Regions from separate parts of the Homo sapiens genome. Here region 1 is linked to region 2. The links come from fine-mapping of genetic effects on gene expression. Tissue or cell type: whole blood. Region 2 holds a variant in brackets; the other region holds the start of a gene. All regions are shown on one strand. Distances are between the middles of the regions.

Region 1 (8,104 bases), 55 kb after region 2:
CACTAGAGAAAGCTTCATTGTTCACATTGTGGGACTAGTTCAAGCCAGAATCATCCAGATGCTCTTGGTATGGGCCGGCATTTACGGTCTGGATCCCAGAATGCAACATTGAAAGGAACAGCTCATTAAAAGAGCCAGCACATGCAGCTTTTGGGGCTTGCCCTGTGCCTTGGTTACCTTGGACAAGTCATGGAACCTCTCGAAATATATATTAATAGCAGCCCAAGCCACCTCATAGTCAGGGGGTGAGGTGGGGCATCACAAGGATCTTCTATAGTTCTTTAATTATTTCACAGTGTCCACAATTTGTCATTCCAACTAGACTATAAGCTTAAAAGCCACGAACTTTTTTTTGTTTTGTTTTTTGAGACGGATTCCCACTCTGTCGCCCAGGCTGGAGTGTAGTGGCACGATCTCGGCTCACTGCAAGTGCCGCCTCCCAGGTTCACACCCTCAGCCTCCACAGTAGCTGGGACTACAGGTGCCCGCCACCACGCCTGGCTAATTTTTTGTATTTTTAGTAGAGATGAGATTTAACCATGTTAGCCAGGCTGGTCTCGATCTCCTGACTTTGTGATCCACCCACCTCGGCCTCTTTTTTTTCTTTTTTGAGATGGAGTCTCGCTCTGTTGCCCAGGCTGGAGTGCAGTGGTGCAATCTTGGCTCACTGCAACCTCTGCCTCCAGGGTTCAAGCGATTCTTCTGCCTCAGCCTCCTGAGTAGCTGTGATTACAGGCACGCACCACCACGCCTGGCTAATTTTTGTATTTTTAGTAGATACGGGGTTTCACCATGTTGGCCAGGCTGGTCTCGAACTCCTGACCTCATGATCTGCCCACCTCAGCCTCCCAAAGTGCTGGGATTACAGGCATGAGCCACCAAGCCCAGTCCGATCACGAACGTTTTTTAAAGCCTGCTACCTTTTTTTGTCCAGTTGACAAGGGCTAACCATAGTGCTGGCCACATATCAGTCAATCAAGTAAATATGGACACAGTGGAGAAATGGTGTTGTCACACCAAACCGTTTGTGGTGTTCATTCAAATGGGACGGACTTGTATTATGTGCACCAGAATTGAACTTCCAAGTTGGCTGCGTGCAATGTAAGCCCTACCCAACAACTTGAAGGCTTGTTTTAGTCACTAAGGATGTTTACCCACAGTGACTCTCAACTGATTCTAGAAAGAACACACCCCCCACATACATACACATACACACACACACACACACACACACACACACACACACACACTAGGGCACTTACTCGCATGGTACCACGTCTCAGAGCTCATTAAAAAGAATTCCTGGCCGGGAGCAGTGGCTCATGCCTGTAATCCCAACACTTTGGGAGGCTGAGGCGGGTGGATCACAAGGTCAGGAGTTCGAGACCAGCCTGGCCAACATGGTGAAAACCCCCCTCTACTAAAAATATCAAAACTAGCCAGGTGTGGTGGCGGGTGCCTGTAATCCCAGCTACTCGGGAGGCTGAGGCAGGAGAATCGCTTGAACCTGGGAGGCTGAGGTTGCAGTGAGCCGAGATCATGCCACTTGCACTCCAGCCTGGGCAACAGAGCAAGACTCCGTCTCAAAAAAAAAAAAAAAAAAAAAAAAGAATTCCTAAGCTAGCCACACTTAGGTTTATTCTCTAGTCTTCTGTTCCCAAACCCTGAATACATGTTCCTTGGAGGAAACAAGCAGCAACCAGATGTCCAAGGTCTCCTGAGTTAACTCCGTCTTCCCTGGTGAATTACAACTTATTGCAGACACAAAGGAGAACAGAGAGACAAATGACACATAAACAGGAGCTTCACTGGCTGGGGGAGGGGGGCATGGAGAGTGACGTCAGTTTTCCCAGAAACCCATTTATCACGATAACAAGGTCTCGAGTGCTTAGGCTGCTCTTTCAGCTTCAGAATCTGGCGTACAATTATGTTCTTCATCATACAGTATGGCAAGGCCAGCCAGAGCAAACTGGAGCCATGCAAAGCAAACCAAGTGGCCCTAAAGCACCCCCTCACCCCCATCTGCAGAACAAAGGGCATCTCTAGGTTGCCTGAGTTGTGCCTGAGGTGAAACACACACAACCTTCTGGAATGTTCCCCATTGCAACATCTGCCCTGCAATCCTAATCCAGGCAAGAGAAACTGGTGAGAGTATGGAGGACAGGTCGATGCAAATTCATTAGCTGACATGAAAAATCATTAGCGTCATTTTTGGATGGAGCTAGTGTAATCCCAGAGATTAATTCCTCTACTTCAGCTATACCATCTCTGAAATGCAGGTAACCAGGAGCAGAAAAGCCACAGCAGAAAAGAGGGAGCCCTCAAAACACTAAAGCAATAAACAACGAGAGTGCCAATCTTGGGGGAAGAAAATTCTCTCAAATTGCATCATCACAGAGAATGTCCCCTGTCTACTCCTGGTCCTTCCACAACATGACTGCATAAAGTGCTCTGTGCTAGGGTGTGCAGGGGGTGGAGGAGGTTCCGAAGAAATGATCCTGCCCTTCCAAACAGGGACAAAAGAGACATTAATACATATTCTGTAGAGAAAATATTATCAGATTCTGGCTTCAGATTTTGTAAAATCAATTTCAATTACACCAAATACCTAGAGGCTTTTTTTTTGTACTGTAGTTGCATTGCATGAACTATTTTCCTAAATAAGTAAGCTACAAGGTTGAAAAACATTTTTATGTGGTTCAGAGATTTTCGTCAAGTAGTATGTGGTGTCATGGGATTTGACCTACCTCTGTCTCCCACTCCTTCCTCACCTCGGGGTGCTGGTGGGCTTATTAAAGTCCCAGATACCCATGGATGAATAGAATAGCTAGGGTGTCCCCCCCAAATGGAATTCATCGCCCTTTGCAACCAAACTTCTGGTTTAAAAAACAAACATGGAGCCTCAGGTCACTTCAACATGGTTTCTCTGCACATCCCAGGCTGGAAAACTTCAGTTCTTTAAATGAAGATTTTTTTTTTCCCAGAGTCGGTCGCCAACAAAAAAAGAGACGGCACCGCTTTTGCGAGTCTCACACTTATTTTCCTGAGTCTCCATAGAAAGAAGCCAGCTCCACAGGTTTTGGCACACAAGCCCAGTTACACTGAACATGCACCCGAGACAGATCCTCAGAGGCCCGCTCCAAAACATGCCAAAATACGCAGCCAGCCACCTACAGGCCAGCCAACTGCACCCCACACTGACGCACAAATGAGACCCAGAGGCACACAGCACAAGCAGACAGAGAGGCGTTCGGACACACACCACAGAGGTGAGCACACTCAGAGAAACACGCGGACTTCTTTGGGTCACAGACAGAACCCCGGCGCCGCCGCCGCCCGCCCGGGAAGACACGAGCGCGCGCGCGTGCACACATACGCGCACACCGATACACACACAGACGCAGTCACATATGTAATGCATATAGAGAAACCCTATCCCAGCCAGTCACCTCCCCGCCCCCCTCGCCACTCACCGCCTTCTGCCCCAGGCTAACCCCAGCCCCGCGCCTCTTTGCCTGTGCGGTCCCGGGTCACAACGGGCAGCCGTGCGCAGGGGCGCGGCAAGGCCAGGGTGCCAGGGACCCGGAGGGCTCGGCGGCTCCTACGGCCATTCATTCGGCAACGCCCCAGCCGTGGGGCCGCAGCTGCAGCGAGGGAGGCGGTGGCGCTCACTGCGGCTCTTGGGCAATGCAAGTTCAGCCGCCGGCCCGCAGGTTTTGCCTGCCCCCCTGCCGCCCCCCGCCCCCCGCGCGCCACCACCGTTTTCCGGGACAGGCTGAGGGACTGAGCTGCTGACCCCGGGAGCAGAAGTCCCACCGTGCCCTTGGCTCCTGGATGCTGCCCACTGCCCTCCTCGCGATGTGGCGGCGGCGGCCAGGTCTCCTTGACCCTCACCAGGCCCTCGGCCCCGGCCCTGGCACCCAAGCTCTGCACTTACCACCTGGCGAGCTATATCGGTCGCTGCCATCGCTCCTGCGTCCGCCAGGGCTGCCACGGGTGCCGCCGCAACGGGAGCTACTGCACAGGAAACAGAGGAGCTCCTCCGACAAAGAGAAAGTGTTACACTTCGGGCGCGACCAAGTCCGGTGGGGGGAGGTGCAAGGGAGGGGCCCCCTCGCCGCTGCTCCAACCCCAACCTCCCCTCTACCGCCCACCCCTTGAAAGTAGGGTATGGAGAGGGGGCGGATTTAACGCGCCGCTTCCCCCTATGGCCAGACCAGTTCCAGTTCTTCCTGCAACCCCAGCCATAGGCTTCTACGAAGGGGGGCGGGGGCTCCCCTCGGTGACCACGTCCTCTGCCCCCCCCGCCACTTGGCTCCGTGGTACGTCCCGACCTCTGCTGAATTGTCACACCCCCCTGCTCTCCTTTACATCCCTAAGTCCCCAGACCCCGAAGGCTGGAAGGGAGCCCCCGCCCCTCCCCCCTCCCATACTCTGCTCAGCGGCCGAGCTCTGCAGTTCTCCTCCCGGCCCCCGTTACCCCCCTTCCTTTCCACCGAGATCCCAAGGTGCTTAGATGGGTGCGCCTTGGCCGCTGGAGTCTCGATGCCCCACTGTCGTGTCTCCCTCCCTCCATGGCCCGGGAGCGCAGCTGCGGCCGAGGTACCGGGGAGGCCTGCGGCACCTGCCGCTCCACAGTAGAGCTTAGAAAGGGGGCCCGTGGGGGGAGCCGCACTGCAGCCCGGCAACTGAGCTGAGCTGTGGCATGTGGGGTCCGAGGCTAGAGGTCTTGAGACGCTGCTTCTGCCCTGGGGTTTCCAAGCCTTGGGTGCTGTGGGCTGTAATTTCGTGGAGCCAAGCTCACCACCTTTGGGTACCTAGTACAGACGGAACCCACGCCTCCTCTCTCCGACCCAGCCCTAGACGCTCAGCAAGACCACCCACCCCTTCTAGTACCAGAGGAAGGGCTGGAGATGAAGGTTCTCAGCTCTATGGAGCGAAATGGAGGGGCGGGTGACGGGGAGCGGCCTCCAGTCACTCTGTCCCGCCCCCTGATTTCTCCTTGACCCTCATTCAGCCCGGGACAAGGCGGCCAATAGGGCGCAGAGGAGAGAACTTCCGAAGGCAGGGGTGCGCCCGCCCGCCCTCCTTATCCCCGTGGCCCACCTCCGCGGGTCCTCTCTCGTGGGCACCTCTCCACTTCTCCGGCCTTGGCGCCCTCCCCTCTCTCTTGGGACTGGCCTCTTGCTAGCTCCCTGTCACTGGAGCACGCTGGCAGATTTGGCATGCCCGAGGCCCCAGCGGGAGGGACAGTACATTCCACTCCTCAAAAGGGCAGGTTCCCTGGTGTGGGAGAGAGACCTGGGCCCGCCAGAGGGACCCCAGATGGGGGAGGGGATGACAAGGCTATGGAGGAAACCCGGGCCCAAGAGGGGGCCCCAATGGAGCATGGAAGATGACCCCGTAAAGGCCCAAGGCTGGAGCAGCTGAGGAGGAGGCAGGAGAGAGGGAAAAAGAAAAGAAGGAACCAGGGAGAGAGAGGAAGAAGGGACTCGATCCAGAGGCCCTGGTCTCGGAGAAGTCAGGGAAGACAAGAAAATGGAGTAGCCAAAGAAGAGCATGCCTGGCACTTGGTTCCACCTGCTGGATGGAGCTTCTCACACTCTCTCGGGAAGCCCTTTATGTATGTACCCTGTGCGCCTGGAGAACAAGGACTCAGCAAACGCATCCCAGGGCCGAGTGCAGGGCCTCGCAGTCAGGAGGCACTCTATTAAGCTGAGGGCAGAGAACTTGGATGCGTGCGAGGGGGGCGGGGAGAAGAAAGAAGAGACACAGTGAGGGAATAGCAGTAAGGACAGTCATGAAGAGCCAAGTATTCAGGGAGCGCCACTGTGCGCCTTCATTGTGCTGGAGACCCAGGAGCGGCCTAAAGAGAAGAGCCTGGCAAAATCAGGGATCAGCGCAGAGGAGCTCCGCGAGACAGAAGGCGCAGGCCATAGGGCGGATGGCGGTGGCAAGGAAGAGGGGCAGCTGGAGTCTTTCAGACTCTCTGGAGCTTTGGGGCAGGGCCTGAGCCCTGGACTGGGTTGGCAGTGACACGGGGGACCAGTGCTATATCTGAGGAACCACGGTGAGGCTTGGGCCCCAACCGCATGGGGGCGGGGAGTCAGAGGTGACTGGCGGCTTCCAGGCTGGGTGTCTGGGACAGGGCTCTTCCCTGGCAAAGGCTAGGGCGTGGTGGACTGAAAGGCCCCGAGGTCACTAGCCCCGATCTGGACTTGGGGTTTGGGTGGTGGTGGGACAAAAGGGGAGAATTTGGAAGCCAGAGCAGAAAGCTGCTGCCGGAACGGGAGGGGACTGGAGGGCTGCGGGTCTCCCGGGAGAATCCCCCACGCACTGCCCCGCCCGCCTTAGCACTCCTCGCGGACTGAAGCTCCGTACTTACCGGCCCAGCGCTGGGGGCACCTGAGCACGGAATCCTTGGTGTCTCATCCATATGCCCCATTCGGCCCTCCTGTCCCTAGAGACTACCAGAACCTCACTGCGTCCTCCTCCTCCAAAACGCTGAACCTCGAAGACCTGAACTAAGTGCTTAATTCAAGTCTCCTGGGACCCTTTGGTTCCTCCAATACCTGCCCACCTGCGGCTACAAGTCCCTCCTGGGGCCTGGGCCTCCAGCCTCCTTCGGTGGGGTGTGGGTCAGTGTGTGTGTTGGTCTTGATGTGTGAGTAGATGTGTCGGTGTGTTCGTGTGTATTGTCAGTGTGTGCTAGCTGTGTGTCTGTATATCTGTGTGTCAATGTGTGTGTTGGCATGTGTTGGTGTGTCAGTGTATTTCAATGCATGGTGAGTGTATGTGTGTCAATATGGAGAGAGGTGTTAGCTCACTAGCTTTACATACCTTATCTCACTCAGTGCAGTGGGCCGACGACTGAGACGTGTGAATCAGAACATTCATTTCAATAAAGAGGTTTGGAAACTCTCTGGGATCATGCCTTTCTTTTTTTTTCCTTTTTTATTTTTTTTTTGAGACGGAGTGCTCTGTCATCCAGGCTGCAGTGCAGTGGCGTGATCTCTACTCACTGCAACCTCTGCCTCTTGGGTTCAAGCAATTCTCTGCTGCAGCTGGGACTATAAGCGCCCACCACCACGCCCAGCTATTTTTTTTTTTTTTTTTTTTTTGTATTTGCAGTAGAGACAGGGTTTCACCATCTTGGCTAGGCTGGTCTTGAACTCCTGACCTCGTGATCCACCTGCCTCGGCCTTGCAAAGTGCTGGGATTATAGGTGTGAGCCACCGCACCCGGCCTGAAATCATGCCTTTCAGTCTTTGTCCCGGGTCACCTTCCCAAGAACAGGGGAGATGGAAGGGCTGAGGAGGCAAGAGGGCTCATGAGTGGTCAGTTCGTGAGTTTTCTTCCTTGAATGTCTGTCCTCGTTGATGAGTGAAGCCAAAAGATTCCCCTTTATGAAGAGTCATTTGGGACTCCCGGGCGCTTCCATGAACATGTATGTGCTCATGTTTGATGTTTCCTTGTGGGGTCCCTTGGGCCCAGCATGGTGTCTGGCAGGTGTTCAATCAATGTTTGTTGAGTAAAGGAATGAACAGAAGCATGTAAATGAGGTGGCTTCAGTATTTCCATGTCCTTAAAGAAGCTGCAACAAACAGAGACTTCCCAGGGGCAAGCAGGTGGCTGTCATTAGCATGCCAATGTTTGTGGAGCCAGACTCTACTGCCTGGGAGCAGAAATGGCTACCCCTGCTAGATAAGAGTGGGCCCTAATTGGAGCCCAGCTTTCCACAGGTCACTGCTGGAGTTGGGGGTGCTAATACTGGATAGAGGAGCAGCAAGCAACTCAGGGGCAGGGAGGGAGAAGAGGGCACTGAAATGGAGCTAAGAGGTCAGGAAAGGGCTTTGTCCTGAAACTGTGGCTTTGTGATAGGAGAACGAGAAAGATGGTAGAGTCAGTCTCAAGTGGAGAAGCCCTGAGAACCATCTGAAAAATAAGATCAGAAAGTTGGAGGAGGGGCCGGGCGTGGCGGCTCATGCCTGTAATCCCAACATTTTGGGAGGCTGAGGCAGGTGGATCACTTGAGGTCAGGAGTTCGAGACCAGCCTAGCCAACATGGTGAAACCCCCGTCTCTACTAAAAATACAAAAATTAG
Region 2 (8,104 bases):
TCAGTACTAATTGACATGATGCTAGTCACTCAGCCTCTAGAGCCAACAGCCATCATACCTGCCATCAAGGAACTCATGGTCTAGTGGGAGATGCCCCTGGCCTAAGCTTATTTTTAAAGAAATAGGAGATAGGCTGGGTGCAGTGGCTCACGCCTGTAATTCCAGCACTCTGGGAGGCCAAGACGGGTGGATCACCTGAGGTCAGGAGTTCGAGACCAGCCTGGCCAACATGGTGAAACCCCATCTCTACTAAAAAATACAAAAAATTAGCCAGGCGTCGTAGTGGGCGCCAGTAATCCCAGCTACTCGGGAGGCTGAGGCAGGAGAATCACTTGAACCTGCTAGGCGAAGGTTGAAGTGAGCCGAGATTGCGCCACTGCACTCCAGCCTGTGTGACAGAGTGAGACTCCATCTCAAAAAAAAAAAAAAAAAAGCAATAGCCTGGTGAAGAAGAGGTGGAACTGTGATCCAAAGAGGGCAGCATGTAAGAAAGCAGGTGTGAAGAGAGAATGACATTCTTGGGGAGCCAGGTATGGTTCAACATGGCCAGAGAGCACCATGGCAGTGGTGGAGTAGAGGCAGACAAAGTTCCTGAGCCTGGAGGAAGAGAACAGGCTTTGAATGCCATATTTAAAAATTGGATATGTACACACTGCATGGTTTTAAAGCAGGAAGTAGTACTAGATCCAATTTGAAAATGAGAAGGACCATTCCGGCTGTGCTGTGGGAAGGATAGACTGTCCATCAATCCAAGTAAGAAGTGACAGGATCTTGGCCAGGTGTGGTGGCTCATGCCTGTAATCTCAGCACTTTGGGAGGCCAAGGTGGGTAGATCACTTGAGGTCAGGAGTTCAAGACCAGCCTGGCCAATATGGTGAAACCCCATCTCTAATAAAAATACAAAAATTAGCTGGGTGAGGTGGTGGGCGCCTGTAATCCCAGCTACTGGGGAGGCTGAGGCAGGAGAATCGCTTGAACCCGGGAAGCCAAGATTGCAGTGAGCCGAGATTGTGCCATTGTACTCCAGCCTGGGCGATAGAGCAAGACTCTGTCTCAAAAAAAAAAAAAAAAAAAGAAAGAAAAGAAAAGAAGAAGTGATAGGATCTTAATGTTAAGGGCTGGGAGGGAATGGAGGGAGCAGTAAGGGAAGCAGAACTCCCAGGACTTGGGAGGAGCCAAAGGTAATTCTGATTATCCTTGGGCAACCAGGTGGATGGTGGTATCATGAATGGCAACAGGGAATGTTGGAGACACATGCTTAAGAGGGCAGAAGATGAATTTGTACAGAGCTTGATTTTCGGGGAGGTCCTCTATGGGATGTCTGAGTGGACATCCAGGATGCAGTTGGATTAATGGGTTTAGACCTCAGAAGTAAGACTAGCTTGGGAACCATCTACTTCTAGGTGGTAATTAGGGCTGTGAGAGTAGAAAGAACCAGCTGCAAAGAGAACAGAAAGTGAAAGGAGCAGAGGCTCTAGGAAAGAATCCCGGGGGGTATATCAACATTTAAAGGAGTAAGGTGAAGAAAACGAGCCTGCAAAGGAGGCTGAGAAGAAATAGTAGGAGAGATAGGAATAGAATCAGCCAGGCCAGTGCTAGAAAAGCCAAAGGCAGAGAGCATTTCAAGGAGGCAGTGGGGAATGGCATAAAGTGCTGCGTTGATATCAAATAAGATGGAAACCAAAGGCCACATTGAACTTGGCCACAAGTCTGCGATTCCTGGCCTTGGAGAGAGGCATTTGAGTGGTTATGCTGGGGACAGAAGCCAGACTGCAGTGGATTGAGGAATGAATGAGAGATGGGGAAGAGGAACCAGTAAACATAGAACAACTCTTTCTCCTCATCCTGTCAAGGACTTCTTGACAGGACAGAGGCTGGTAAGAAAGAGCAGGGTTAAGGGAGAGTTTCTTCAGCACAAGAATGCTTACATGCAGCATGGGAAGGAGCTGGCAGAGAAGGAGTGAAGAAGGCGAAGACACAGGAAACAGAGGTATTCAGGATGGAGTGAAGGAGGAGGGAAGGAGACAAAATGACCAGGTGGAGGCACACCTACTCCTCTACAAATGCAGATGAAAGCTGCAGGTGGGGAAGACAGCCAGGGAGCTCCCACCAGAAAAAGACAAGCATGGCTTCCCCCAGCCCCACCTGTCAGTATATAGGGCATGAGCCTGTCCCTCCTGAAGCAAATATCCCCAAGGGACTGGTTAGGCTCTGACTCCAGGCCAGCTTTAGGCTGTGCACAGGTAGAGTAAGATCTCAGAGGCTCTTTGAAAGCCTTTTTAACTGGTAGACATCTCCCTCACTTGCTTATTAATGCCTGACCACCATAAAGGGCACCACGTGGTAATTTCAACTGTGGGGCTTATTTCACACATCACGCATATAGATCAGACACTTCTACTTGGCGCATTACTCCTCTCTGCATAATAACCTGCTTTCAAAAACATTCCCCTTCTCTAAAAGCATTCTGATTTAAGAAATATGGCAGTGATGATCAACATCCTGCGGTCAAAACAGAACTTGCACTTGAATGCAGACACTAAGGACAGCAATTGGAGAGCCTGCAGTTCATCGATGCATGGCAAGGGCATGCTACCTGGTCCTATCTGGGTTTGAGAATGGGGAAATGGGTAAAGAACAGACTAGAAACCTGTCTGAGCGCCAGGAGCCTGATGAAGAAAGAGGGGCAGAGGACAGTTACCAACTGCCACCTCGTGGAACAGGGCCCCAGCTTGGGGATTCCCCCCAGCGCAGCTGCTTGGAGCTGTCATGGATGCGTGCATGTGTGTGTGGTGATCAGCCTTGCTGGTCCTCTGGGCATCCTCCCTTCCCTTGCCCTTAAAAGCAAGGCGGCGGTACTTCCCAAGCCTGCTCCCCACAGCTCTCCTGGCAGGTGTGCAGAGGCAAAGGGTGAACAGGCAAGCAGAACTGGCAAGTGAGTCGCCCCTGCTCCTTGAGGTCTTAGCACCCGTGTCTCGCCTCCCCTGTGAATTCTCCAGGGGAAGGCTTCCACACCACCTGAGTGGGCTGAGCTGAGCTGGGCTGGGCTGGGCTGGGCTGGCAGGAGCGGTACCTGAAGGGTTTGCTGTCAGGGTCGGTGTCCTTGAAGCCCATCTCCTCCAGCTTACAGCGGCGATACAGCTCATAGTGCCGGGTGTGGGTCTGCTCCCGCAGATCCTCCATGTTGACCCGAATCAGCATCTCCCGCAGCTTCACAAAGTCGCAGTGGGCCTCGTTTTCAACTGCATAGCAGGATTTGGGGTATTGAAAGTATGTTGAAAGGAAGGCCAGCAGAAGCAGAAATGGATGAAACGAGAGGCAA[A/G]ATGTCTAACAGTGACGTTGCCTTGCAATCTGTGTATTTAGATCCTGCAAATTTACCTCCTCTCTTTTCTACTGAAAATGTAAATGAAAGGTTACAAAAATGCCAGTAATGAAAAACTGTGATATCATAAAAATACTTATTAAGACAGTCAGTAGCACCACAATCTAAATTCAGCAGTCAGAACCCTCAAAAGAATGTTTGGTCTGCACCACTTGTAGGACAACAGCATATATGCATCTGTCCATCCATCCATCCATCCATCCACTCATCCATCCATCCATCTATCCATCCATCCATCCATCCATCCATCCATCCACTCATCCATCCATCCATCCATCCATCTATCCATCCATCCATCCACTCATCCATCCATCTATCTATCCATCCATCCATCCATCCATCCATCCATCCATCCATCCATCCAATCAATATTTGTGGAATCTCTGTTCCCAGTATTGTGTGAGGCACTGGGAATTCAGAAACGAAGTGATGGAATCTTGCTCTCAGGAGCTTATAGTTTAGAGGAAGAATAGATACAAATAGACAAATACAATTCAGTGCACAACTACAAAAATAGAGGGATAGCCAAGTTGCAATAAAGCTCAGAAGAGGGGAACCTAAGAACTCCTGGGAAAGTGAAGACTTCACCGAAGAGAAAATCTCTAAGATGACTCTGGAAGGAAGAATAGCAATTTATCAGCCAGAGAAGGGAATGGTGTTTGCAAAGTGTCAATGAGGCTAGGCAAGGTTATGTAGCTAGTAAGTTGCAGAATTAGGGTTCAAACCCAGGCAATGTAGGGGAGGTGACAAAGTCTCCAAAGAATAAGGGGAAAGAACTAGGATATTGATAGATGACAGTGACAAGGAGGGGTGTGGACCGCAGGCATGGCCCACCTGGATGGTAGAAGCTTCCAAGGAGGTGGTTTCTTTAGAAGGTAGATAATGGCCTGACAGTAGCAGTGGTGACTAGGAGCAAGGGGACCCCACTTTCTGGCCTGTGTGAACAAGTCCCCTCCTCAAAAGAGTGCAAGCAAAGGTCTGCAATTTGGGGCAGTGGTCAAGAATGACAGATGTGGACCAAGTCATAGCAAAATCGATTTCTGGCTGGACCAGGTCACGAGGAGCACTTTGTCAAGGTGGCTACAGGTATGGCTTCACTGTGTCGGATGGTGGTATTTGCCCTGAACAAGTAGGAAAAATGGTGTCTGAAGTGAACAGGCAATCACCCCAGATTCTGTCTTGCAGGGTCTGGAAGAGGGTAGTGAGGGCAGAGAAGGGTCTGGGATAAGTGGGTCAGCCATAGTTGAAGCAGACTACCTTGTGGTCATTAATCTTTCCAAAGCCCGAATCAGCTCACATAATCCCTCTGCTTAAGACCCACTGAATTAGGAATAAAGCCCCCTGCTGTCATAGAACACAGGCTAATATTAAAGATGACATCAGTAAGACAACTTCTCAGGACTATGCTATATGCCATCTCCTCCTCCATCTCTGGACAGTGATCTCTAATGGTGAGTCAGAAGGAGTGCCTCCGAGGGCCCTGCAGGCTGCCTGAGCAATATACAACTTCTTCCTCATTCAAGCGGAACAGTCAACTTAGACTTACAAGAAAAACTTTCAAAACCCCCTTTTCTGTTTAGGTTCAGAGTAGTCCACATCAGATGAAATAAGTCATTGGAACCATGTCTACTGGCTTCTCCTCGTCTCACTTCAGGTTCCTGTTTCTCAGACCACAAGTCCATTCCCAGGGTGGGACACTGTGGGTCCAGAAACCATTTGCAAACGTTCCTAGTGGAGCATCCCCAGCTCCGAACAGCAGAGAAGACCAGAACTTAGCACAGCTCTGATAACCAGTCTTGTCCTACCTATGGAAAATCCAGCTATTGCCAGTGGGTGTGTGGGGTGTCCTAAAACATGCCAGCCTTCGTATGTGATGTGGACAACTCGCCATCCACTTTCAGGTGTTTCCCCAGTGGTAGGGATGAGTTTACAGAGAACCAGCCACTCTTTCACACGATGCCCCTATCAGCCACGGCCCAGTTTCTAGCTGTAGACTCTGAGGACCAGAGACCTCTTCTACCCACAGCGCCATCCTTGGCCTTGTCTTGTGCACTGAACTGACTAGCCCTGAGGGTAAGTTAACATATGTCAGGCAGATCACAGAAGGAACTTTCCTGAGTGTAATACAATATGTCTAATTGCTTTTCAATTGTGAAATAATCATACATACAAAGAGCATGAAATGTGTATGTACAATTTAAAGAATTTTTGAAAAATTAACACCAATGTCTCCACAACTCAGGTTAAACATTACCAGTACCTTGGAAGCCCCTGAGTGCCCTTTCCCAATCTCATCCCCCTCTATCCCTCAACTCCCCTGGCAGAGACTTAATCCTTCTCCTGACTTTGGGGATTATCATTCCTTTGTTTTTCTTTATAGTTTTACCTCTTATGTATGCATTCCTAAGAATATATATCTTGTTTAGTTTTGCCTCCTTTTGGAATTCATACAAAGGGAATCCAATGGTATGTTTCTTTCTTTCTTTTTTTTTGAATCTCACTCTGTCGCCCAGGCTGGAATGCAGTGGCAAAATCTCAGCTCACTGCAATCTCTACCTCCCGGGTTCAAGCGATTCTCCTGCCTCAGCCTCCTGAGTAGCTGGGACTACAGGCACATGCCACCATACCTGACTAATTTTTTTTTTTTTGTATTTTTAGTAGAAACGGGGTTTCACCATGTTGGCCAGGCTGGTCTCGAGCTCCTGACCTCAGGTGATCCGCCTTCTTCGGCCTCCCAGAGTGCTAGAATTACAGGAGTGAGCCACCGCGCCCAGCCCCAACACGTAGTTTTTTTAAATCCCTTATCCCCCTCCCACCCTCCCACTATCCAGTCTTTTTTTTTTTTTTTTTTTTTTTTGTATTTTTAGTAGAGATGGGGTTTCACCATGTTGGCCAGGATGGTCTCAATCTCCTGACCTCGTGATCCGCCCGCCTCGGCCTCCCAAAGTGCTGGGATTACAGGCGTGAGCCACTGTGCCCGGCCTATCCAGTCTATTTTAAAGAATATCTGAATTGTTTGTAATTATTTGTCATTACAAACAACACTACTGTGAACATTCTTCAGGTGCACTTGGGCAAGAACACATGCTTTTTCGCACACTCCTTCCTACCTTGCAAGTCCTTGTGTTTTAGGAATACCTTTCCCATTAGAAATTAGAGGGAGCTTGCTCCCATCAGAGCATCCCAGTATGGAGCCAGAGTTAGCTTGCTAGTGACCCCTATGGCTATTTGGGACCCATGCCGAATGAGCAGAGACTTGGGACAATTTAGAAACTTGTCATATAGTGGCTGGGGACAAACAAAGAGACAGACAAAAGGGGCTTCCTGTGTGTAGCCCTTCCCGGAGACTCACTCACCCTGCACAGTGCCCCAAGGATACTGCCGCGCCCTCATCATCTTGTTGCCTATCTTCAGTTCTTCTGTGCTGCCAATGACAGCAAACGGCAGGTGGGCCTGAAACCGAAGGCAAACGAAAGCTGAGAACTGCAGAAGAAAGGCACTGAGTGTTACACAACCCAACTGCTGTTCGTCTCTGGGGCCCCAGGCCCTCACCCTGCAATGTCCCTCACTGTCATCATCACCAACAAGCATTTATTAAGTTCCCAAACCATGTGAGGATAAGAGGCCTAGTCCAAGCCTCTGCTGTTCAGAAATTCACAATAGAGGGTAACAATGACATGGCTGAATGCATAGGGAACAAAGAGAGAAAATAAGCAGAATAATAAGCAGACACACAGATTACCAAACTATTCGCTATTCATAGTTACTGCTGAGGGGAAGAGCCTTTGGAAGAAGGGGAAGTGGAATGAGGGGGGTTCTGTGTGGATAGAGAGGATAAAGGAGTACCAAAGGGTCTGGGATCACTGGCCCTTCTCCCTCCCTGGCATGCAAGAGCCCCAAGACTAGGTCCATACTGAGACCACACAGCCAACTGAGCTGTACTCTCCTTGTTCTCATCCTTCCCCGGAGAAAGAGCTCACATTGAACTTGTGAGCCTAGAAGGCAAGTCACCAAGGATTTACTCACATGACCATGCTGGGTTCTTCTGTAGGTGCTATAAGGCAGACAGAAGCAGCAGAAGACACGCTCCCTCGCCCTCTAGGAGCTTACAGTCTTGTTGAGGAAGCCCAAATTACATAACTCAAGTCATATAAGATAGTATGTGATCAAGGGCTCAAGTATATGGTCTGGTACCCTGTACATAGTAGGTGCTTAATAAATACTTCCTGAATGGCAGTGGTAGGGCTAGGGAAAGAGGAAAGAAAGGCAAAGGACAAATAGGTTTATGAGCTTGGTGCTCACAGGGAAAATGAGGAGCTTGGCCTGGCTTTATGGATGAGAGAAGAGAGAGCTGCCCCGACTTGGCAGTATGGGGCCTAGGAAACACTCACAGAGCCGTAATCCACAAGGAGCTAGCCAGCTTGTAAGTGCTAAGTCACCACAGCCAGATGGAACCACGGAATCAATGTTTACTGACCAGGTGAGCCCAGGTGGGGCTTTGCCCAAAAGGGCTTTACACCAACAGGTAAAGAGCCTATGGGGAAAGTTTCTTAGCCTGCCTGCAGAAACAGGCCATGATCTCAGATATTCTGACCCATTTGCCCACTCATCCATTCTACAAATATTTACTGAGCTCCTATGATATGTGCTAGGCATTAAGAATGACGTAATAGCAAAAAAGCACAGACCCTGGCCCCGGAGAGTGCACAGTGTGCCAAGGGA

What was found. PIP is the estimated chance that this variant, and not a neighbour inherited with it, causes the effect.
Region 1: it holds the start of SEPTIN6, and the variant in region 2 is fine-mapped to the expression of SEPTIN6 in whole blood (TOPMed, PIP above 0.99). The same link has a PIP of 0.9 or more in blood mononuclear cells.

The regions. Positions count from the first base shown.
Region 1 is chrX:119,689,139-119,697,242 of GRCh38, forward strand. SEPTIN6 (septin 6) reads right to left here and starts at 4,030. Exons shown (of 11, transcript NM_145799.4): 1 at 3,938-4,030. The coding sequence starts at 3,967. RefSeq lists enhancers at 3,044-3,093, 3,914-4,043, 7,592-7,651 and silencers at 3,584-3,713, 4,224-4,273.
Region 2 is chrX:119,633,954-119,642,057 of GRCh38, forward strand. SEPTIN6 (septin 6) reads right to left here. Exons shown (of 11, transcript NM_145799.4): 6 at 6,739-6,835; 7 at 3,074-3,242. Among named protein-coding and RNA genes, the nearest start is that of MIR766, 8.8 kb to the right of the region's middle. RefSeq lists enhancers at 4,739-4,858, 5,369-5,418. The variant A/G (reference allele first, on the strand shown) is at 3,323.